Homo sapiens: one gene and its partners. The protein of the gene in region 6 purifies or fractionates together with the protein of the main gene of each other region. This does not show direct contact. Each region holds a gene or a part of one and is shown on either strand. Other genes may lie near its edges.

Evidence for each region.
Region 1: the proteins of SLC45A4 (region 6) and ANKLE2 purify together in Homo sapiens (affinity purification with mass spectrometry; one large-scale study listed by BioGRID and IntAct). This does not show direct contact.
Region 2: the proteins of SLC45A4 (region 6) and CNNM1 purify together in Homo sapiens (affinity purification with mass spectrometry; one large-scale study listed by BioGRID and IntAct). This does not show direct contact.
Region 3: the proteins of SLC45A4 (region 6) and SLC25A21 purify together in Homo sapiens (affinity purification with mass spectrometry; one large-scale study listed by BioGRID and IntAct). This does not show direct contact.
Region 4: the proteins of SLC45A4 (region 6) and UBE3C purify together in Homo sapiens (affinity purification with mass spectrometry; one large-scale study listed by BioGRID and IntAct). This does not show direct contact.
Region 5: the proteins of SLC45A4 (region 6) and PISD purify together in Homo sapiens (affinity purification with mass spectrometry; one large-scale study listed by BioGRID and IntAct). This does not show direct contact.
Region 7: the proteins of SLC45A4 (region 6) and GLDC purify together in Homo sapiens (affinity purification with mass spectrometry; one large-scale study listed by BioGRID and IntAct). This does not show direct contact.

The regions. Positions count from the first base shown.
Region 1 is NC_000012.12:132,748,333-132,751,832, forward strand, and holds part of ANKLE2 (ankyrin repeat and LEM domain-containing protein 2), read right to left. Parts: intron 2,518-3,500; coding exon 2,311-2,517; intron 1-2,310. UniProt on the Homo sapiens protein: Involved in mitotic nuclear envelope reassembly by promoting dephosphorylation of BAF/BANF1 during mitotic exit.
Region 2 is NC_000010.11:99,384,856-99,388,355, reverse strand, and holds part of CNNM1 (metal transporter CNNM1), read right to left. Parts: intron 537-3,500; coding exon 353-536; intron 205-352; coding exon 55-204; intron 1-54. UniProt on the Homo sapiens protein: Probable metal transporter.
Region 3 is NC_000014.9:36,711,107-36,714,606, reverse strand, and holds part of SLC25A21 (mitochondrial 2-oxodicarboxylate carrier), read left to right. Parts: intron 1-3,124; coding exon 3,125-3,289; intron 3,290-3,500. UniProt on the Homo sapiens protein: Transports dicarboxylates across the inner membranes of mitochondria by a counter-exchange mechanism.
Region 4 is NC_000007.14:157,180,426-157,183,925, reverse strand, and holds part of UBE3C (ubiquitin-protein ligase E3C), read right to left. Parts: intron 2,409-3,500; coding exon 2,255-2,408; intron 1,819-2,254; coding exon 1,598-1,818; intron 49-1,597; coding exon 1-48. UniProt on the Homo sapiens protein: E3 ubiquitin-protein ligase that specifically catalyzes 'Lys-29'- and 'Lys-48'-linked polyubiquitin chains.
Region 5 is NC_000022.11:31,652,216-31,655,715, reverse strand, and holds part of PISD (phosphatidylserine decarboxylase proenzyme, mitochondrial), read left to right. Parts: intron 1-3,500. UniProt on the Homo sapiens protein: Catalyzes the formation of phosphatidylethanolamine (PtdEtn) from phosphatidylserine (PtdSer). Plays a central role in phospholipid metabolism and in the interorganelle trafficking of phosphatidylserine.
Region 6 is NC_000008.11:141,252,789-141,256,288, forward strand, and holds part of SLC45A4 (solute carrier family 45 member 4), read right to left. Parts: intron 1,984-3,500; exon of another isoform or gene 1,842-1,983; 5' UTR 1,442-1,841; coding exon 1,201-1,441; intron 1-1,200. UniProt on the Homo sapiens protein: Proton-associated sucrose transporter. May be able to transport also glucose and fructose.
Region 7 is NC_000009.12:6,531,967-6,534,848, forward strand, and holds the end of GLDC (glycine dehydrogenase (decarboxylating), mitochondrial precursor), read right to left. Parts: intron 2,823-2,882; coding exon 2,742-2,822; intron 1,195-2,741; coding exon 1,051-1,194; 3' UTR 501-1,050; downstream 1-500. UniProt on the Homo sapiens protein: The glycine cleavage system catalyzes the degradation of glycine.

The DNA of each region.
Region 1 (3,500 bases), on a different chromosome or scaffold from region 6:
TGTCAGTAAGAGACAGAATTTAAGAACAATCAGTTTCACCAAAAGTCACTCATCACCCATGCACCCTCTGATGAGGGATAAGCAGCTTTCCACAGAGGCTTCTGGGCCAACTGGGAGGCACAGGTGAGAAAAGACGAGAAGGGCCCACGGCCACCGGCCCCAGCATGCAACGCAATCAATGGCAGCCAGCGTGCCCGTCAGCAGAGCAAGTGAGGGAGAGCAGCCAGACCCGGCCACAATCTCACTGGGGGCCCCAGCCTACAACGGCAGCCAGCGCGCCCCCATGAGCACAGCAAGTGGAAGAGCAGCCAGACCCTGCCACAATCTTGCTGGGAAAGGCTCTGTGAATGAGGCCAAGTTTGGTGAACTTTGTGTTTTTTCAGAGACAGGGTCTGGCTCTGTTACCCAGGCTGGAGTGTGGTGGCACGAATATAGCTCACTGCAGCCTCGACCTCCTGGGCTCAAGTGATCTCAGGCCCTCAAGTAGCTGGGACTACAGTTGTATGCCAACACGCCTGGCTTATATACATATATATATATATATATATATACACACGTATTTTTAGAGATGAGGTCTATGTTGCCCAGGCTGGTCTCAAACTCCTGGCTTCAAGGGATCCTTCTGCCTCAGCCCCCAAAAGTGTTGTAATTACAGGGACGAGTCACCACACCCGGCCAGTGAACTCTGAAAGCTCGGTCAGTAGGTGGAGGAGGAATAACGGCAGCAGCGGGCAAGGGAACACTCCCAGAAATCACGCAAGACCTTCGATGTGCACAGTGTGGCTGCAAAGGATTACAGGATTAAGGAGCCTGCCACCACGCCCAGCTGATTTTTTTGGGGGGGACGCAGTTTTGCTCTTTCGCCCAGGCTGGAGTGCAGTGGCGCGATCTCAGCTCACTGCAACCTCCGCCTTCCAGTTTCAAGCAATTCTCCTGCCTCAGCCTCCCAAGTAGCTGGGATTACAGGCACCTGCCACCACGGCCAGCTAATTTTCGTATTTTTAATAGAGACGGGGTTTCACCATGTAGGCCAGGCTGGTCTCAAACTCCTGACCTGAGATGATCCACCCGCCTCAGCCTCCCAAAGTGCTGGGATCACAGGCGTGAGCCACCTCGCCCGGCCTGATTTCTGTCTTAAGGTGATTTCCTTCTGAGGAATCCTCACAAATTGCAAAGAAGGAAATCCGTACCTGTTAGAAGCCACTCTGGTTTCCATCCAGGAAGCACCTGTATAAGGCTGACTGAGGGCAGGCGGATGACTGGAAGGAGAGGGCAACATTCCTCTGGAGTACCAGCCCGCCAGGGAAGCCCAGACAACTGTGAGCTGCGAGAGGGAGCAGGAACTGAGGCCAGATGAAAGGTAAAGGCGGAGGTTCTACCCCACACTGACCGTGAAGAGCCTCTTCACACAAAACCCTAGTTCTGAGCTGGGAGGTGGGCATGGGTCAGACTTCGGGCTGGACCGCTCCTACAGATAAGCCCGCCTTCTCCAGATGCCCTAGTCCTTGAAGTAGGTATAGCTTCAGGTGGGGAAGTAGACTGGTTTCAGGATCCAAAAAGGCGCAGGGGCTCACGCCTGTCATCCCAGCACTTTGGGAGGCTGAGATGGGAGGATCACTTGATGCCAGCAATTCAACCAGCCTTGGCAACATGGCAAGACCCTGTCTCCATAAAAAAAGTTTAAATTCTAGCCTGGCCAACATGGTGGCTAAAAATACAAACATTAGCCGGGTGTGGCAGTGTGCACCTGTAATCCCAGCTACTCGGGAGGCTGAGGCAGGAGAATCGCTTGAACCCGGGAGGTGGAGCTTGCAGTGAGCCAAGATCGCACCACTGCACTCCAGCCTGGGCGACAGAGCAAGACTCCATCTCAAAAAAAAAAAAAAAAAAAAGAAAAAGTTTAAATTAGCTGGGTGTGGTGGTGCACGCCTATTTCTCAGCTACTTGGGAGGCTAAAGCAGGTGGATTGCTTAAGCCCAGGAGTTTGAGGCTGCAGTGGGCCATGATAGCACCAGACTGCACTCCAGGCTGGCAAAAGAACAAGACCCTGTCTCTTTACAAAAAAAAAAGAAAAAAATCCAACAGACACGGGGACAGATGGAAGCGGCCACAGCGTTCTTTTCAGCTTCTCCAGAGTCAAGATGCTAATTACACGAGCATCAGAGCCAGCATGGCCTCCTGGTCCACTGAGACCCCATCGACTCTACCCTCATGGAGAAAACAAGTTACCACATCAGAGGAAAGAAGGCACAAAACAGGGTGGGATCAATGTGACAGGAACATCAAGATGTGAACGGCTGCATGATTTACCTTTCAACCTGTCATTGCTAAAGAGTGGAGCTGTTTTCACAGGAGACAGTGGTAAGGACGTTTTGCTTGGAGAAGGGAAATAATCACAAATTCCTCTAGCAAATTTCTCAGCGTCTTCTCTGGTAGAAAAAGCTTTAAATCGGGACCCTTTGATCATCTTGACAGCTTGCAATGCTTCCTTTTTATTTTCATAAACATAGATCCTTTCTGGGTAAGAAAAGTAACAAATGAAAATCAGAGAAGAGTGACTGGAGAGCTGTCACCTGGCCATGCCCTGGGCCTAACCATCAGCTTCCACATCTGCTACCCAGTCGCCTGGCTTAGTTCAGATCTTTAATCCTGAAGAAAAAGGGCCTAAGCTAGCCAAAATAGAACAATTAACAAGCTCGACAGTGTGCATATATGCATGTAACATGATATATATTATGTTCATATATGTAATTCTATATGCCAAGATTCTATCCTAAAAACTAAATTTCATATAAAGATCTAAATAAAAATTATTAAAAGGCAAATTAAAAAAAAAAACTATAATTATGTCAGCCAAGAACATAAGAGAATTTTAAACACAATTTTGAACAGGGAACGCCTTTTTATTTTTTACTTTATTTTTTTTTTTGGAGACGGAGTCTCGCTCTGTCGCTCAAGCTCAAGTGCAGTGGCACGATCTTGGCTCTTGCAACCTCTGCCTCCCAGGTTCAAGCGATTCTCCCGCCTCAGCCTCCCGAGTAGCTGGGATTATGGGCATCCGCCACCATGCCTAATTTTTTGTATTTTTAGTAGAGACGGGGTTTCATCATGTTGGCCAGGCTGGTCTCAAACTCCTGACCTCAGGTGATCTGTCCGCCTCGGCCTCCCAGAGTGCTGGGATTACAGGTGTCAGCCACGGCGCCCAGCCGGGAATGGCTGTTTTTTTTTGACATGGAGTCTCACTCAGCTGCCGAGGCTGGAGTGCAGTGGTGTGATCTTGGCTCACTGCGACCATCATCTCCCAGGTCCAAGCGATTCTCCCGTCTCAGCCTCCCGTGTAGCTGGGATTATAGGCACCGGCCACCATGCCTGGCTAATTGTTGTATTTTTAGTAGAGACGGGGTTTCACCATGTTGGCCAGGCTAGTCTTGAACTCCTGACCTTAGGTGACCTGCCCACCTCAGCCTCCCAAAGTGCTGGGATTACAGGCATGAGCCACT
Region 2 (3,500 bases), on a different chromosome or scaffold from region 6:
TGCCCAAAGGCAATGATCTCCCTTGCTGCACTGGGCCCAGCTGGCCTCCCTGACCTGCTCTCGTGGGAACGGCTGCAGGAGACAGCGTGAGCTGCTGTGTGCTGTGCTCCTCGAAGTCAGTCATTTCTTCCTGGGTGAAGGCCAGCTCCTCCATCCTCAGGTACACTACCTCGCTGGGGCTTCTCAGCCCGTCTGAGCGGCTGCCTGGGGAGGACAGTGAGTGCATCACCTCTCTGCTTTGGAGAAGACCCAGGGCTCAGGTGGTGTGAGCCCTGGGAAGGGCTAGAAGAGGAAGGCAGGGTCATCCTCACCCCACACCAGCCCAGCCTGCCCGTCTGCCCAGCTGACTTACACGGCAGGCTGTTCCTGTTGTTGAGGAGCGTGATGGCGGGGTCATCCTTAGGGGTCTGGGGTGTGCCCCGGGTTGTGGGGGCCTTAGTGGAGTCCCCGTCTGTGAAGGCCTCCATGTCAGGGGACTGAGGTGAGCTGTCCATGTGGCAGGCAGTGAGTGCGTTCTGATATTGCTGCCGTGTGATCTGGAAGGAAGAGGGCAGGAGCTTAGGAGCAGCTAGGCAGAGACCACCCGGATGCAGCCAGCCTTCCCAGGCTCGGGGGCAGCCTCGCTGGGGTGCTTGGAACCCTCGGCCTCTGAGGCCTGAGATCCACGAATGGGGGCCTTACCCACGCTGTAGCAGTCCAGCAGGGACAGTGAGGCGGCCCTTTGCTGGTCTGCCACCAGCTCCCACTGTTCATTTTTATTGGCACCTGGAAGAGCCAAGCCTTCTGAGACCCTGGAGAGGATGGAGGGCATCTTCTGAGAGCAGGGTGGTTGCCCATGGAGAAGTTTAAAACACCCATTTATACTATTGCCAAAGGCCCAAAGGGTCAGTCGGGGGTGACTTGGTGAGAATAAGGTAGGACTCCAGCAGGGAAGCTCTCATGCCCTAGGTCTCAGTGTCGGGAAGCTGGAGGCTAAGGCCTGAGAGAACACAGGCATTTCTGATTTGGACTAAGCCCATCCCTGGATGTAGGGTCATGCTCCTATGCTGGCTGGGACCACAGCAGGGAGGTTTCCCAGCTGTCTCCTCAAATCACAGGAGTCAGACTTGTGACTTTCCTGATGTGTCAAACACCCACAACTGAAGGCATCCGGAGGGTCAGGCTGCAGCCAGACCAGACAGGAGTCTCCACGATTCCAGGCAGGAAAAATATGGATCAAATATCTCTTCTAAAAGGCAGGAGGGTGTCTCTGTCACCCCTGTTCTCTGGGTGTACATAACAGACTGGCACTGTGAATCCTTGCTAGCAGTGAAAACAGACTAGGTTGTGTGCCACCCAGTACAGGAATGTGAAACCACTCATCAGCGGCTGGCACTGGGGGAAGAAGGGAAATGGTACATGGCATAATATCCTTCCCAATCATACCATCTCCTAAAGCGTTTTCATCCCTCCTTCACTGCATTAGCGCTAGTGAACGGACAAAACCACAAATTCTGCTCATTTTGCCTTCTCTTTCCTTTGGGGCAGAATTGGTATTACACGTTGAAAGAGAAAAGATTTCTGCTGGAAATAGGAGAGGGGATGGTTAAGGCTGACATGTTGGGAAAGAGAGTAGGCTTGAAGTTGGCTTTGTATCCGGCAAGGTCTCAACAGTGGCTCCTTGTCAACTACTGACAAGACGCATTATTTTACTGGACACGATCAATCCTTTCTTTAACCAACTTCAGGATATTTTGCAAGAGAACCAAGCAAATTCTAAGCACAACCAATCGAATCACAAAACACCAGTTAAGAATACGTGCCTTTTTGCAGAGCATATGGGACACATACATGCAGAGATTCCAGGCTTCTAGTTATACTACTGCCCATTTGAGTGGGCAAATAGAGTTTTCTCTTGATGGTTTAAATCAGTGATTCTCAAACCTCAGCATCAGAATTATCTGAAGGACTTGTTAAAACAAGATTTTTGGGTTTAACTCTCAGAGTTTCTAATTTACTAGGTCTGGGGTGGAGACTGAGAATTTGCATTTTTAGCAAGTTCCTGTGTTCCTGGTGCTGCTAGTCTGGAGATCACACTTTGAGAACTGCTGACTTAAGACCTAGTTAAAATTAGTTACAGGTACTACTCAGGTTTTGGTTTTTTTCTTCTAAAGGATTTTACAGGACAAAGCAGCAAAGTGTTAACAACTGGCTTCGATATTTTTCAGGTCAAAATGGTATATTCCATGCTTTATGGCATGGAACCACAGGTCTCCACTTAGCATTTATCCAAAGTCTTCAATCGATTCAATGTTCTTGTTGAAAACACCTGACTTTTGCAATTCCCTCTGTTGGGAAGTGAGAAGTCACGTTCCAAAATTTCCCCCAAAGATGAGGAAATTTGGCTCTAACACCAAAGGATGGGAAAATTCCCTAAATGACACTTGGTAAGCCCAGTAAAGCAGTTGATCTTACTCTGTTTGGGTTCTTTAGTTATTTAGATTTGGCTTCTAGTTTAGTCAAAGGCCAAATGTCCCTTCACCTAAGAAATATGGCAGGAAACACAGTGCCAAGAACTGAAGTTCAAGTCCCAATTTTGCCACTTTCAAGCTGGGAGACCTTGGCCAAATACATATACATTTTTAATCAGCCAATGGGCAAATGAATACACTGGCCACATTGTTAACCTCTCTGATCTTATAAAAGAGGCCCAGAGATAATGAGATAACATGAGTGAATCCATTATATGAAACTGTTAGGAATGGTTGTTTAAAACATGCCCACATGCATGTCTCACCATTTGACTTTATAATGGGCATACATTTCAAAGACAGCTGTCAAGCTTACCATCTCATTATGTCTAAATTGCTGATGCCACACACAGGGTGGAGGTGGGGGAAGGAGCAGTGTCCTCTCTGCCCCCAAAGTCAGTGTGACTGGAGATTCTGTGAAAGCAAGACTAGGTCTTGGAAAAATAAATCCTTAATCAAGAAAATAAAGCAAAAGGGAAAGTAGGGGAAGGAAGGCAATTCCGACTATGGACAGTGGAGAAGCGGGACAGAAGGAAAGGGACAGTGAGTGAAGAAAGGAGAGGAGGAAGAGAGAAGGAAGGGGCTGTTTCAGTAGGCTTTGAAATGGATTTCCTGGCTCAGGGCCCCTATAAGTTGGTAGACTGGCTGCGTCCCCCAGGCTGGAAGTCTCTTGGGAATGACTACTGTTGCAAAATGCTCTATATTATTTAACTAATTTATTTTTGGAAAAGTTCTGCCCAGATTTTATCTTCAGTGAGTTGTACCACTCTTTTTTTAATTTTTTTTTTTTTTTGAGATGGAGTCTCGCTCTGTCTTGCCCAGGCTGGAGTGCAGTGGTGCAACCTTTGCCTCCCAGATTCAAGCAATTCTCGTTTCAGGCTCCTGAGTAGATGGGACTATAGGTGCACACCACGACGCCCAGCTTATTTTTTTGTATTTTTAATAGATACGGGGTTTCACCATATTGGTCAGGCTGATTTTGAACTACCG
Region 3 (3,500 bases), on a different chromosome or scaffold from region 6:
GGGGAAGCCCAATTCATGTGCTTTTCCATTGCCAGCCTTTCTTCCCGTATGGCCTTACTTCTACAGCCCACAGACTTGCCATATGCAGAGATCTTAGCCAGGGTACTCACCTTGAGGGATAAGGAAGAGGCCAATTTATAGGATTTACTGCTCCAGAGAGGAAAGCTCCTGGGTGAGGCACTGTACCTGGAACAAGATCTCTACCCCAAGCATTGAATTTGGTTGGGTCTCAGAGGAAGCAGACCTGTTATCTTGCATTCTGCATGCATTTCTGGTGGACTTTATCACAAAGGTCTGGGACTCTGGGAAAAGGAAAGGACAGCCAGAAGGAATGAAGAAAAAAAGAAGCTTTCTCTCCCTCAAATCAGATTCCAGCTTTTGGTTGCCACTGCCTTCAACTAACAAAGAAATCACCTGTCATTTTATTGTTATAACTATTTTTATGATTGTCAGCATAATTGCCATTATCGTTAACACCTAAATGTATAGTGAATGCTTAGAATGGACTAAGTTGTTTACAGTGGACTAAGTTCATTGACTTCTTTCAACAATCTCAACAATCCTGTGAGGAAGATTTTTTTTTCTTTTTTTGTTTTGAGATAGGGTCTTGCTTTCACTCTGTCATCCAGGCTGGAGCCTGTCACTATGCAGTGACAGGATAACAGTTCACTGCAGCCTCACCTTCCAGGCCTCAAGTGATCCTCCTGCGTCAGCCTCCTTAGTCAGCCTCCTGAGTAACTGGGATCACAGGCTTGCCACAGCACCTGGCTAATTTTTTAATTTTTTGTAGAGACTGGGTCTTACTATGTTGTTCAGGCTGGTCTTGAACTCCTGGGCTCAAGCACTCCTCCTGCCTCCGCCTCCCAAAATGCTGAGATTACAGGTTTGAGCCACTGCAGAAGCCACTGACCTCCGGAAGATTCTATCATTATCCTTATTTAGAAATTTAGAAATTAATAAAGTGAGAATCAATCAGAGAGGATAAAATACTTGCCAAAGTAGCAAGTGGTATTGCTGAGACTCAAACTTGGAACTGTCTAGCTCTGAGCTCCTATTTCCAATTACTATGCTACTCTCCAATTAATTACTGACAACTAGAGTCCGAACTCAACAAAGCACTTGAGTTTAAAATGATGCATTACATTTGCTTATACACACACAGCACCCAAGCCAGTGAAAATCAGGAAACAGACAATTAGCAAATGCCACTTGAATATTTGTCAGCTCTCACCGAGATCTAGGAGAAATCTCTTTTCAAGATGATGAGAAAGATGCTATCCAAATTAATCCTTAGTTTAGTCATCCTAATTCTAATGACTTAGCAAACTAAGATTTTTAAACAATAGAAACATCTTTATACCCATGTTTTTAGGGAAAGCCATTGTCATTTGCACTTTATTTTAGAGCCGTTGGTTTCTCTGCTGCTCTAAAACTTAGATGGCCTCGGAGCTCCTCCGCCCTCATGCCCTCAAGACCTCAGAGGAGTGAGGATGGAGAAAAGGTTTAGGTTGGGTGCAGGGAGAACCTGTGTTAGTCAGGCAGCCTCACCTCTGTCCTGTTCCTCCCACCCCCAGGAAAGCTGCCCTCTCCTTCCCCCACCTCTAGACTGCCTTCCTTGAAGCAAGATAGCAGTACTTGGGCAGTTTACTCAGCACTTCCAGGGTCTTTCCAACAAAAATGAGTTTCTGCTCAACTTGTCCTATCTCTTTTGAAAACCAAAAAATAATGATTTGGGGGTGAAAGTCAATGTGCTGAAACACAAAAAAATCTCATGTTGTCAAACAGAAAGTAAACTTTAACCTTCAGAAAATTTTTTGGTTTTCCTGTATGATATGTCTTATTGTTTTAAGATGTATTCTACCATGGTTTTTTCATATTACAAAGGAGGGTTTTCTTAAGCTTATTGTAATTGATTGTAATTAGTTCCCTTAAATTAATGGATGAAGTTGAGTGTAGAATTGTAGCTAGAGTCTTCAAAACATTTATCAGCAAAGACTATAGGATTTACTATATAAACAAGCTCATTTAAATGTTTCACATTAATTACATAGCTATTATAAATGCAGATGGGAAGAAAAGCCTTGATGGGATTTGTTCTATTCTATTCTGCTGATGTAGCCTTAATTGCACATGATAAGAAAATACTTTTAGTCTGAAAGTGTGCCAGACTGCCACAACCACGCTAACAACCTGCTTTAGTGAAATATCAAACAAATGTCATGTCAGTGTGTGCCTCATGGGTGGAAAAAAAAAAAAAGCACTGAACAGTTTCCCCTGTTAACTATTCAGTGAAAATATGAGAGAGATATCTTTTGTACAGTGCCTTCAAAAAAGAAACAACCACTCATACATTTTTTTTTAAACCCATGTGAATTGTAATTGTATTGTAATGAATTGTAAATCTCAGGGTAACAGCAGTGAGCTCTTCAGCCAGACTGGATTCTAGCAGTCAGGACATTTCAGCCTTGGGTAATCAATCAGGGGACTGGAAAGGAGTAATTTCAAGGTGGTAACCAAGTACTCCCAACACCATTTATGTAGAATTTATCACAGCAGTGATACGCACACTGATTGCATATCTGCTTGAGGACGTGTACAATCAACAGCTATTTATTTATGGCCAATTTATAACATAGTGCCAGGTTCAACCATTGAGGCAATTGAATCAAAACTGTAACATTAGCTTTAGAAAAACATAATTAGAAAGGTAAATACACTAGATTCAGGAGCCAAATATAAATTCCTTTTGGATAATGTATAGTTATGGATTACCAAATATCTATATGGTTAATCTCCTTCATTAGTGTGAATAATCCAGAATTGGATGTAATTACTTACATGTTGAAAGTGATGATAGTTATTATACAACATCAGTTTCACTAATCCTATCAAAATCGTTTGTTCTTTGCCAACAATCTTTTCTATAAAGCCTGTTTTTATGCATGCAATTTTGTTTGCTTCTTGGGTTTGCTGATTTTAAAAAACACAGTTCTAGGCATGATTATTCATATCTGGGGGAAAAAAGTCCCTAATAATTCTGGCTTGAAGGGAAGTTAATACGGTAATTTACTGTATTCCACAGTCCCAAAGATGATCATTCTGGCCTTGCTTCTCTCTTCTGCAGCAACCATCCACTGTGGGTTATGCAAGACAAATCATTAAGAAGGAAGGCTGGGGACTCCAGGGCCTCAACAAAGGATTAACTGCAACTTTGGGACGACATGGAGTTTTCAACATGGTTTATTTTGGCTTCTACTACAATGTCAAAAACATGATTCCTGTCAATAAGGTAACTATTTAATAAATTAAAATCCTGGAGGAAAAATCCTATCAGTGATGATAGCTCCGTTTGTAGAATGTTTATCCTGTCCTGGTCACTGTGCTGGACACCTACATCTATTATCTAATTTGATCCTTACATCTGCATTGAGTGCTGTTATCCCTGCTTCAAATCCAGAAGTGGAGTCTTAGAAAGATCAAGGAAATTGCCCAGCTCACAT
Region 4 (3,500 bases), on a different chromosome or scaffold from region 6:
TCTGCAGCACCCGCAAATACACCAGCAGCCCTTCCTCAGAGAGGGCCCCTTTGCAAAACAATCAGTTAAAACGTATTTTAGTTAAACATTATTTTTTAAAATGGAAAACGAAGACGCCATTTTTCCTCACACGCAGAGAGGCATTTCTGACCAGATCTTATTTTTAAAATTCTAACTGTGTTATAATAGGAAACATATTTAGATTTTGTCCCCGTTCATGTCAGAAAGCACCTACAACTCTTGTAATTTCTTGAAAGATAAAGAGTCTCTTGTTATTCATAGCCAGCCCTTTGTGATCATACTTGAGGTGACTTATGGTGAGGCCATCTAGGGGACTCAGAATGGGGCTTTTCACCAGAAAAACCAAGTGATCAGAGGGTTGGAACTTTCAGCCCCACGCACCAACTTCCAAGGGGCTGTCTGTGGGAGGGACACTGGAGAAGAAGCACCATAAAACTCAACAGGAAGACACAATGAGCTCAACACAGGGAGGTGCCGAGAGTGTGGAGTGCCTGGAGAAGGCATGGAAGCTCCCCATTCCCGCACACCTCGACTTCCCGAGTTCTGTGAACTGTCTTAGTCAATTACCAATCCCAAGGAGGGGCTGAGGAACCCCCATTTTTGCAGGTTGGTCAGAAGTATAGGTGACAACCTACTACTTGTAATCGGCCTCTGAAGTGGGTGTAGTCTTGCAGGACTAAGCCCTCAGATGATGGGATCTGACATTATCTCCGGGTGGACGGCATCAGAATTGAACTGAATTGTAGAATACCTAGTTGGTGTCCACTGAAGAATTGCTTGGTGTGTGGGAAAAAAAACCCCACATTTCTGCTCACAGAATTTTTCAGTGTTGAGTGAGAGAGTAAGAAAAACAGTTTGGGCTGGGCACAGGGGCTCAAGCCTGTAATCCCAGCACTGTGGGAAGCCGAGGCGGGTGGATCACGAGGTCAAGAGATTGAGACCATCCTGGCCAACATAGTGAAACCCCGTCTCTACTAAAAATACAAAAATTAGCTGGGTGTGGTGGCGTGCACCTGTAGTCCCAGCTACTCAGGAGGCTGAGGCAGGAGAATCACTTGAACCCGGGAGGCGGAGGTTGCAGTGAGCTGAGATGGAGCCACTGCACTCCAGCCTAGTGACAGAGCGAGACTCTATATACCCCCCCGCACCCAACCCCCAAAAGTTTGGTTTTCACATTTTCCTATATTTCTTTCATGAATAATTCATGCATGTATGTATGTATGTATGTTTTCAAACATACTACAGGAAGATGTTATTCTAGAAGAGGCACACTGGAAATTTAGCAGAGGGAGGGAAACAGGCCTGACTCACAGAAGAGCTTTCCCATTTAACTCTGTTAACTCTATTAAAATAATCTGTGTGGCCTCATAAGACACATATATATGTCAGTCTTTTCCACTGTATCTGGAAACTGTCCCCAGGAACACACTGCCCAGACCACATCCCTCCAGCAAATACACTCCTCCAGGAGAGGCCCACCTTTCCATAACACCTGCCACTGCATGGCCTTCTCTTGACTCATCTGCCAATGCTACCCATATGTGTGTTCAGGTAAAAAAGATCTTGTATTTCATACCCAAATAATTTTCGCCAACAGTTAAAACGAAATAGAAAAGCCAGGGTGCTCCACCACTCTTTCTTGAACATCTACTCTCTATTAACAACAGTGCATTCAGAAAGGGCTCGTAAGGGAAAACGGTCTGCGCATCTGCAAGCGCCGGAATGATGAAATGAAAAATCTGATCTGTAAAAGGTGCTGCCAGAAACTCCTCTGTGAAGGCTGTAAAAACTTGTTGCCTGAAAAAGAAAAACAGAAGCTTTTTATAAAATCAAATTATACTGTCCATCCAATCACTGATTAAAATCACCTTTCAAAATATCCTTCTAAAAGGATAATCTACTCTTCTAAATTAGCCAAGTTAACCATTTTAATATCAACTAGATCAACCTAAAGTAAACTTAATGTCTTCTCTATTAAGATAACTACCATGTTTTCGTTAATTTTTGACAGTTACTTAGAAAAGCAGGAAAATAACCATGTTATCAGAATCACAAATTTGTATTAGGCTACAGGCCAGAAAGAAAAAGTACACTTTCCTATAAACTAAATCAACACTAATAAAGTAAAAACCTGAATTTCAAGTCTATATTTAAAATCACATCCTATGTAAAAGTTACCATCAGATATAGATCTTGTGAAAGGACAAAATCAATAAATCCATTCCAGTCTCACCTCGCACCTTCCGGACAGGAGTTGTAAGTAAAGTGCAATGGTTTTAGAACATTCTCTAGCAAAATTTTTGCTATAGGAACTCGAGATAAATCAGAATATTCAATACTTGATGGAAGCTTGCTGTTAATCAACAAATATAGAGACCTATAATACCCTAAAAGGAAAAACACATATTTAAAATTTAGTGCCTTTTCCTGTAATAAGGGAAAAAACTTGCCAATTTTTAAATGCTTTTAACCATCTCTACAGGTCCAAACTTAAGTTAGTTCTTTAACATGCTAGCAAGGAAAACTAAACAAATATATAGGCAGCCGAACGGTATACAAACCTCATGTACCAACAACTGTCAACTACAGCCAATCTCATTTCACCTGTATACCACTCATTTGGAAGGAAGTCTAAGATATAATTATTTTAGTGTATCATTAAGAGACTATTTTTAAAAACATTATCACAGCTAAAATAAATGAAGAGTAGTTCCTTAACATCACAAATATCTAGTCAGTATTCAAGTCTCCAACTGTCTCATGTTAGAAATTCTATTTAACTAGTTTGCTTGCATCAGGAAGGAGCTCAATAAGGACCACATATTGTGATCTTATAATTTGTCTCTGATTTGTGCATTTTTTAAACACCGTGTTGAATTCATAGAGTTGAACATATTGGTAGGTTTCATTCCACTGTAGTCCTGACCTCATGCTGCTCCACCTGGGGCCCCGGGGTGGGCTTTAGGAGGCTCCTGAGCCCCAGGGTCACTGGCAGTCCTGCATCCCGCCCTACAATCAGCCTTTTCTCCAGAAACTCTTAAGCTCCTTTTAGAGGAGATGATGTATTTGGAGACCACAATCTGGGAACTGAAGAAGTTAACTGTTTAAAGGCAGCTTATACGTAAACTGAAACAACTTTCAGAACCTCTTAAAATATCCAGCCTACGCTTCTGATAGGAACTCTGGGTGGGAGGCAGTGAACATAACTCTGGGTATCAAGAATGATCCAAATCATATATTCTTTCAGAATCATTTACTCCATTTTTATAGAATAAGAAGGTTCAGGTGCAATTTTTGAGTATCTCATCATATACAAGCGTATTTGGTAGCACATTAAAAACAATCCATCTGCATGGGCTAGTTTTTGAAACAGTCCTACACAGCTTCGTATTTGAGTGAAGATCACCAAACAATGCATACTCAGTACTTTATCATTAGACCTACTTTGTAACTACCCCAAGTCTAACCTAGTGTATACT
Region 5 (3,500 bases), on a different chromosome or scaffold from region 6:
TTGCAGTGAGTTGAGATCACGCCACTGAACTCCAGCCTGGGTGACGGAGCGAGACTGCATCTCAAAAACAAAACAAAACAAAACAAAAACGAGTCCTGGCCTGGTGCAGTGGCTCATGCCTGTAATCCCAGAACTTTGGGAGGCTGAGGTGGGAGGATCACTTGAATCCAGGAGTTTGAGACCAGCCTAGGCCAGATGGCAAGACCTTATTTATCTCCACAAATATTTAAAAATTAGCTAAGTGTGCTGGTGCACACCTGTAGTCCTAGCTACTCAGGAGGCTGAGGTGAGAGGATGCCTTGAGCCCAGAAATTTGAGGCAGCGGTGAGCTATGATCATGCCACTGCACTTGAGCCTGGGCAGCAAAGCGAGACCCCATCTCTGGGAAAAAAAAAAAAAGGGGGTTGTACCTGAGTGGCTGGATGAACGGTGGTACCTTTTTTTGACCTGTTGTGTTAATTATAGTAATGTTGGTACTGTAACAGATAAACTCCAGCATTCTCAGTGGCTTAACACCGTAGAAGTTTCTCACTCTTGTAAAGCTGCATTGGGTGTTCCTGATTGGCAGGGCAGCTGTTCTCCAAGCAATGTTCAGGGACCCAGTCTCCTGCCGTCTTTTTTTTTTTTTTTTTTTTTTTTGGAGATAGAGTCTTGCTCTGTTACCCAGGCTGGAGTGCAATGGCGTGATCTCGGCTCACTGCAACCTCTGCCTCCCAGGTTCAAGCAATTCTCCTGCCTCAGCCTCCCCAGTAGCTGGGATTACAGGGGCACACCACCACGCCCATCTAATTTTTTGGATTTTAGTAGCTACTGGGTTTTACCGTGTTGCCCAGGCTGGTCTCAAACTCCTGAGCTCAGGCAATTCCTCCACCTTGGCCTCCCAAAGTATTAGGATTACAGGTGTGAGCCACCACGCCTGGCCTTCCTGCCATCTTTAATACTTCCCACAGTCGGCATGTTTGTCTGCATCAAGCTGGCTGGTGGGGGTAAGCTTGGAGGTGAATGCCTGGGAAGCCCGAATGATCCTCAGATTTCATTGGTTCACACTTAGTCTCATGGCCACACCTTGCTGCACAGGAGGCTGGGAAATTTAGTCTAACAGGTGTCCAGAAGAGGAAGTGCATTTGGTAAACATCTGGCTAGTCTCTCCTATGGATAGAGAACTCGGGCAGGAGCAGATTGAAGGTGAGTTAGAGAGGGTCGGGAATCCTGTCTTCTACAGACTCAGTTTGAGAGGACTCAAAATGGGGCCATTGGGTAGCTGGCCCCTGGAGGAGCAATGAAGGAGTCATCAGTGGATGGTTCTTTAAAGCCATGGGACTGGATAAGCATCTCTGGGGAGAGTTTATAGGTAGAGAAGAGATCTGAACCCTGGGCATGGCAAGAATCCACAGTTAGGAAGCAAAGGAGAATTCACAAATAGAGACTGAGAAGAAACCAGAGAAATAGGAAAAAAATCACGGTCCCAAAAGCCCAGTGAAGAGTGTTTCAAGGAGAGAAGGATCAACTGTGTCATGCTGCTGAGACGTCAAGTAAGATGAGACCTCAGATATGTGTGTGCATTGGTGTTGGCAACATGCAGGTTGTTGGTGACCTTGATGAGGTGGTGTGATAGGAACAAAACCTTACTGAGTGGGACTAAGAGAGGCTGAGAGGTGAGGAAGTGGTAACAGTGAGTGGAGAGCTCTTTTTAGGCTTGGAATGAAGGAGAGCAGAAAAGTAGGGAGGACCAAAGAATGATAGCATGGTAGACAGTGTTTGTGTAAGACTGAAGAAATGACAGCATTCATATGAAAATCGGGACGATCCCGTAATAAGATTCTCCTGCCTCAGCCTCCTGAGTAGCTGGTACTACAGCGTGTGTGCCACCACACCTGGCTAATTTTTGTATTTTTAGTGGAAATGGGGTTTCACCATGTTGGCCAGGCTGGTCTCGAACTCCTGACCTCAAGTGATCCACCCGCCTTGGCCTCCCAAAGTGCTGGAATTACAGTCATGAGCCACCATGCTCAGCTAGGTGTTTATAAGTCAAGGAAGTTTTATGTGAAAAAAGGGAAGTACCTAAATCTGATGTACCAAACTGATATAATGAAGCATTTCCCAGTATTTGTTCCAGCAGCTGGGACTACAGCGGTGGACAAAAAGCTGAGCTGTTTGTTCTTGGGCAGGGTTCCTGAGGGGGAAGATGGATATGCAAAACAAACCACCTGAGTGCCCTGTGTCCAGTTACGGTGGATACATAAATGATCATCTCCCATTCCTATTTCCTCCTGTCAGACAAAGCCTTGTTAATCATTGTGCAAACATTCTTTCAGTTAGGGGTTTTTCAGTATTCTGGAAAACACAATGCGGCAATGTACAGAACACAACAATTTATCCTTCAGTCCGTTTTTGCACTTCTCGTTAAAATTCTGTTTAGAAAGCAGGGTTTTAGGCTTTTTGCTGTGGCAGTGGGAGTATCCAGTCTAAGAAATGAACATTGTTCAGAACTGAAAGAACTTTCATATACTGAAATATACCCTTCATTGTGTTAATAGCTGTCTGGCCTTGGGGGTGGTGCTCGTCATGGTAAGATGCTTTTTCTCCTTGTTTGCCTATAGGAGAATCAGATTCATCATGTTAGCTACAATAGTGCTATGCTGCAAGGTGGGTGTGGTTTTTTTTTTTTTTTTTTTTTAAGGTAGGGTCCTACTCTGTCACCCAGCCTGGAGTACAGTAGCGTGTTTTCGGCTCACTGTAACCTCTGCCTCCTGGGTTCAGGCGATCCTCCCACTTCAACTTTTTGGTTAGGTAGGACTACAGGCACATGCCACCATGCCCGGCTAATTTTTGTATTTTTTGTACAGATGGGGTTTCACCATGTTGCCCAGGCTGGTCTTGAACTCCTGGGCTCAAGCAATCCTCCCACCTCAGCCTCCCACAGTGCCAGGATTATAGTTGTGAACCACAATGCCCAGCCTGGCAAGGGGGGTGTTTGTTTTGTTTTGTTTTGTGATTCTCCTGCCTCAGCCTCCCGAGTAGCTGGTACTACAGCATGTGTGCCACCGCGCCCGGCTAATTTTTGTATTTTTAGTAGAGACGGGGTTGCACCATGTTGGCCAGGCTGGTCTCGAACTCCTGACCTCAAGTGATCCACCCACCTCGGCCTCCCAAAGTGCTGGGATTCCAGGCGTGAGCCATCATGTGCTCAGCCAGGTGTTTGTAAGGCAAGGAAATTTTATGTGAAAAAAGGAAAGTACCTAAATCTGATAACATTTGTAGGATATCTATACAAGACATAACTTGGGCCAAGTGCTGTGGCTCACATCTGTAATCCCAGCACTTTGGCGGGCCGAGGCAGGTGGATCACTTGAGGTCAGGAGTTTGAGGCCAGCCTGGCCAACGTGGTGAAACTCTGTCTCTACTAAAAATACGAAATTAGTCAGGTGCAGTGGCATGCGCCTGTAATTCCAGGTACTCAGGAGGCTGAGGCATGACAATCGCTTGAACCCGGGAGGTGG
Region 6 (3,500 bases):
CTGTGAATTTCCGTGTTTTCACGCCCACCTGCGTGTCTGTGAATTTCCGTGTTTTCATGCCCACCTGCCCGTGTCTGTGAATTTCTGTTTTCATATCCACCTGTGTGTCTGTGAATTTTCGTGTTTTCATGCCCACCTGCGTGTCTGTGAATTTCCGTGTTTTCACGCCCACCTGTGCGTGTCCGCGAATTTCCGTGTTTTCACACCCACCTGTGCGTCTGTGAATTTCCGTGTTTTCACACCCACCTGTGTCTGTGAATTTCCGTGTTTTCACGCCCACCTGCGAGTGTCTGTGAATTTCCGTGTTTTCACGCCCACCTGCGAGTGTCTGTGAATTTCCGTGTTTTCACGCCCACCTGCAAGTCTATGAATTTCCGTGTTTTCATGCCCACCTGCGGGTCTGTGAATTTCCGTGTTTTCATGCCCACCTGCGTGTCTGTGAATTTCCGTGTTTTCATGCCCACCTGTGTGTCTGTGAATTTCCGTGTTTTCATGCCCACCTGCGTGTGTCTGTGAATTTCTGTGTTTTCATGCCCACCTGTGCGTCTGTGATTTTCCGTGTTTTCATGCCCACCTGTGCGTGCCTGTGAATTTCCATGCTTTTGGAAATGCCTGTCTCTGAGCCATCTACTGTCCACAATAACCTTGGATTCAAGTCAACAGCAACAATGATAAGATGACAGCATCTTCCAGTATCTCCCACAGCCAGGCACTGTTCTAAGCACACCTGGGACCCTCTTAGGGTTGGTTTGCGAATGCAATCACTTTACACACAAAGAATCAGAGTGTGGCACAGAAGGGCTCCCGAATTCGCCTGCATGACACAGCCAGTGACTGTCAGTGCTGGCGACCCTGCCCTTTGCCTCGTTGTTCACTGTGGCCTGGCAGGGACAGCGGGAGAGGTGAGCCCCGGCCGAGAGCCAGTACTTATCAGTGCCAATTCTGCCCCAGATGCTGAGCTACCACTTTGCCAAAACTGTAATTCAACGTCAACATCCGAAGATCACTCCTCCCCAAACCTGGCTGAAAACAGGAGACGAAAACCACCATCAGGGCAGGCTGAAGGGAGAGGAGACAAAGACTCCAGTGCCCGGGGCTCTCCAGGACGCACCATCCTCTGCCTCCAGAGGATCAGAGCCACGCCCAGTCCGCTAGCACTCCGCTCAGCGTTCACTGCGCACAGACGGGGAGGAGACTTACCAATCTGCAACAGTATTGGTGTGACCAGAGCGGTTTCCATGGCGTAACAGAACTCCCTGCCAAACATCACCGCCCCGTGCATCACCCACAGGCGCATGGGGATTCGGTCTATGGACCCCTCGCTGATGGTCTCGCAGTTCTCGGCCTCTGCGCCTCCGGCTTTCTGCGGGTCCGGCAGGGGCACGGATAACTCTTGAACTTGCATAGATTCCGGGTCGGCATTCTGCGGAGCCATTTTCATTACCACCAAAAATATATGTATTTATCTATATATTCTATCTATATAAATAATGCTTTCATATATCTGTAATGATAAATTAAGACGTCTTCTCTTTCTGCTTCTGCTGTGTTCCTCGGGCAGGTAACACTTACATTCCTCTTTGCACAAGTGGCTATCTCACAACTTCTCACAACGGTATGAGACATGCAGCAACACAGAACGATTTTTGGTTGGATTTTAAACATATGGCTTGCTGGTTTACTGTGAATTAGAGTTAAAAATCCATAATTGCCATTCAGTTAATACCAGTTTCATCATTATTACTGAAGAGGTGCTGAAGTGATTTTTCTTGCTACAGAGAGGTGGGAAGGTGATACAAACAGGTGGTCCGCTGGTAATCCCCATCGAGTGACTGGATGATCTGCAAAAGAGGAAAACAACCCGGCCAGAGAGTCAGGGGACGGCCACCAGATGGCCCTGTGGACCGCCGCCCGACCCCCGAGCAAGCCGTGTGCCCCGAGGGCCCGACCCAAGATCACACAGCTCTCTGCCACTCACTCTGGGTACGTCTGTGCAAATAACCAAACCTACTTTCTAGAAAAACATTTTCTCATACGAAAGTGAATCCTGGGGAAGGACAAAGGTGGGGCAATCAAGGAAAGCAGGATCAAAGAACAGACAGAGAAAAACGCTGGAAATATTCACTCTTTGGCCAGTAACAATATCGTCCACCCTGTGTACCACAGCACGTAACTATTCCAGCAGGCTGGAGGCAGCTGGCGACACCCTTTGTGGCTGCAGATATCATGAAAGGGAAGTAAGGAGGTGAAGGGAAAAGTGGGGGAGGTAGGCAAAAGAGAATCAAAAGGGAAAACTTTTGTTTAAAAAAGTTTAATTTGTTAGTGACAAGGTCTCGCTCCGTTGCCCAGGCTGGAGTGCGGTCACACGACCATGGCTCTCTGCAGCCTCAAACTCCTGGAATCAAGTGATCTCCCACCTCATCCTCCCGAGTAGCTGCGACTACAGGCATGCACCACTACACCCAGCTAATTTTTCTAGGGTCCCCATTACATTGACCTGGCTGGTATCCAACTCCTGGGCTCAAGCGATCTACCCTGCCTCGGCCTCCCAAAGCACTAGGATTTACAAGTGTGAGCCACCGTGCCCAGCCAAAAAGGGAAACTGTAGACCCTGCCTGGAGAGGTGGAAATTAAAAATAAAAAGCAGCTGGGCACGGTGGCTTAAGTCTGTAATCCCAGCACATTGGGGGGCTGAAGCAGGTGGATCACCTGAGATTAGGAGTTCAAGACCTGCTTGGGCAACATGGCGAAAGCCCATCTCTACTAAAAATACAAAAATTAGCCAGGCATGGTGGCGGGCGCCTGTAATACCAGCTACTCAGGAGGGTGAGGCAGGAGAATCACTTGAACCCGGGAGGTGGAAGTTGCAGTAAGCTGAGATCGCACCACTGCACTCCAGCCTGGGCAACAGAGTGAGACCCTGTCTCAAAAAACAAAAACAAAAACAAACAAACAAAAAAAACAAAAAGAAAAGAAAAATGAAAAGTAGGAGGCTGGGTGGAATGAGCATAGCATGATTCTCTGTCCGGGGGGAGTTCGAAGTCTACCCAAAGGCACCTGGACTCCTGTGGTATTGGCCTTTAGGTTATAAAACCTCTTGGGAATAAAATGAAATTATAGACCTTTTCTCCAGAAAAAAATGTACGCATGTGCCAAACTCTGACTATAGTACCTAGGGGTTCGGAGACTCCCAACCCACACGCAGCTTTCCCAGGGTCTACGGAACCCTATCACCCCAACCCTCGGCTTTCCACCACCCTGCCTCCAGTGACAAACCCAGCTTGGTGACAAATTCCCCACCTGGGCAAACACATACAATAAAGCAGCAATAAGCTAACTGGAAATGCCACCTTGGAAATGTTTTAGGAAATGAGGTCAATCTCTCCTCAGGTAAGATAAGATCGGGGATGTGGAACACCCCAAGTTCAGGACTTCTGGAGTTAGGTCTCCAGACATGGGGTTCGGTTCAACTGAAGTGTTAGAGCCCCTAAAAACACACC
Region 7 (2,882 bases), on a different chromosome or scaffold from region 6:
CTCCAACTCCTGACCTCAGGTGATCCTCCCGCCTCAGCCTCCCAAAGTGCTGGGATTACAGGCATGAGCCACCGCGCCTGGCCTTTGCTCTTCCCTTTTAATCCTAACTAGAATGGGTATGTCAGACGCCTGGAAATGCAACAGCCTTCTTGAGACCATGCGGATGAAAATTTTATGCAAAGGAGGGCAGAGCGGGAAAACTGAAGGAGCACCAGTGCTTGGCTTATTACCTCTGGACTTAAATGAGAAAAGATAAATTGCTATTTGATTGACCTTCCATAGCTGGAGTACAGTTACATGCACTCTAACTCAGTTCCAACAAAAAGGGTCAAAGTGGTTTTCACTGTTGACCAAGACAACTGTTTCTTCAGCCAGTCGAAGGCAAAACTGATGATGTAACAATGGCTATTGGGTTGGGTGTTCTCATTGCCCTTCAGCTCCCACTGAATCTAGGTTGTAACGGTGGTAAAACTATAAAGTACACCAAGAGAAAGGCATTCTTCCGATCAAGATGCTTTTATTAGAATACTAATAAATGCAGATTAAAAAAAAAAAAACCTCACACAGAAAAAGAGGAGAACACTCAGAAATGTGATTACAGATTAGGCATATTAGAGGAAAAAGAGTTCTTCAGGGTATACAAAATGTAAACATTTGCCCTGGGATTTCCCACAGATGGCACAGTCCACATGGACTCTTTTGGAACAAAAAAATGTCTATTAAGTCTCCAGGATAGCCTCTATGACATCTGCAAACTTGCCACATTAAAAGTTAAAGTTCCTAAAACTTTCTACGCAAAACACAAAATGGCTCCCAATCCAGGCAACTGGCACATGTGGAAGCAGAATACCAAAGCAAATCCGTCTTCCAACCATCAGCTTCGACTCCCTCCAGCTACTGTATTTACATTTACCTTGACAGAGATTACAGAGATATACACAGTATATAAAACTCCTACTTGAGGCTGGGGTGGGAGATGAAATCTTTCTTGCTTATCAAATGCTCTGGGGAGAGGCATCAAATCAGTCCTTTAAACTTAGGGACAGAGGACTAAGAAGACGCCCTCTTTTGTTCAGAAAATGGAGACTCATAAACTTCCATGGGTGGGCAGGTACAAACCAGGTGCTGATCTCCATATATGTCATCAATCCGGGCAATCGTTGGCCAGAATTTGTTCTCTGGTTTCACGAAGGGCTGCAAAGGACAAAAGATGGAAATGCTGTGAGATGTTCTGGGAGGTTTCTCTTAGGGCAAAGGAGGTGGCAATGCTAGTCCCACAACCTAAGACACCATCAGCCCAGCAAATATTCTGAGAACCTAAAATCCAACCCTACATTACCATTTAAAAAAAAGAGGCATTTCCCAGGAGGCGTGTCCCTGATCACCACCCCTGTTAAGCATCCCTATGTGCTGTTGATATCTGGACCAGTTTATAGCAAAGTTGTGTTTGAAAGACTTCAACTGCTTAAAGAAGACTTTGGAATCTATGTTTATCTGCCCATTATATCCTTAAGTTTGGATATTTAGCTGACCTTCTCTTTTAACATAGGTCTAATTTATTTGCTATGTCATTTTCCATACAATTCAGTTGATTTAAAAGTTAATTTCTCGGCTGGGCGCAGTGGCTCGTGCCTTTAATCCCAGAACTTTGGGAGGCCAAGGCAGGCAGATCAGCTGAGGTCAGAGGTTCGAGACCAGCCTGATCGACATGGAGAAACCCCATCTCTACTAAAAATGCAAAATTAGCCAGGCATGGTGGCACATGCCTGTAATCCCAGTTACTTGGGAGGCTAAGGTAGGAGAATCGCTTTAACCTGGGAGGCAGAGGTTGTGGTGAGCCGAGATGGTGCCATTGCACTCCAGCCTGGACAACAAGAGTAAAACTCTATCTCAAAAAAAAAAAAAAGTTAATTTCTCATACTGTGTATTAAAATAAAAATTTGAACGATTAAAAAAAAAGCATCAGCTGGGCGTGATGGCTCACGCCTGTAATCCCAGCACTTTGGGAGGCCGGGGTGGGCGGATCACGAGTTCAGGAGATCAAGACCTTCCTGGCTAACACAGTGAAACCCCGTCTCTACTAAAAATACAAAAAATTACCCGGGCATGGTGGCAGGCGCCTGTAGTCCCAGCGGGAGGCTGAGGTAGGAGAATGGCGTGAACCCAGGATCATGCCACTGCACTCCAGCCTGGGCAACAGAGCGAGACTCCGTCTCAAAAAAAAAAAAAAAAAAAGAAAGAAAAAAAAAGCATCATTTTGTTTCCTCTCCTCTCCAATGAATACAGGATTTACCATTCTCATTATGTTTTTATACTATTACTGCATAGATCCATAAACAGCACATAGCATAATTTGGCACATTTTTAGCCTTCTCCCTACCTCACTCAAACAGACTACACAGAACCTTCTCCTCCATATAAGAATCAGAAAGGAAAGGAAGGTTGCACTGGGCGCCATCTCCCTGTCCCACAGTGGAGGGAAACACATTGGTCCACTGGGCAGGACTCGTATTCAGTTTTCCCCCACTCTGTTCCCTATGGGTTCCCAGATCTGTGGTTGATACTGTGTGACCTCGCCTCTGAAAGCCAATTTCTTTGCTCCTCATTCCTCTTCAAGACCCTTATTTCACAAGGTGCCCCACATATGGTTTCTGTAATCATGAGGCTAAGAGCGTACACCCGTCAGGATAGGAGCTGGCCCATGCCTTCCCAGCTGGCACATTCAGATTCAGAGAACTTACGAGTGGGAATGCTGCCACCTCTCTGGAATAAGGCCGGTCCCAGTGGGAAGATGTAACGCAGGTCAGGGAGTGTGGAGACATCTGAGACAGAGACACGGACAGAGGAGGGGTCAGAGCAATACACTCTCTTCTCCTCCTACC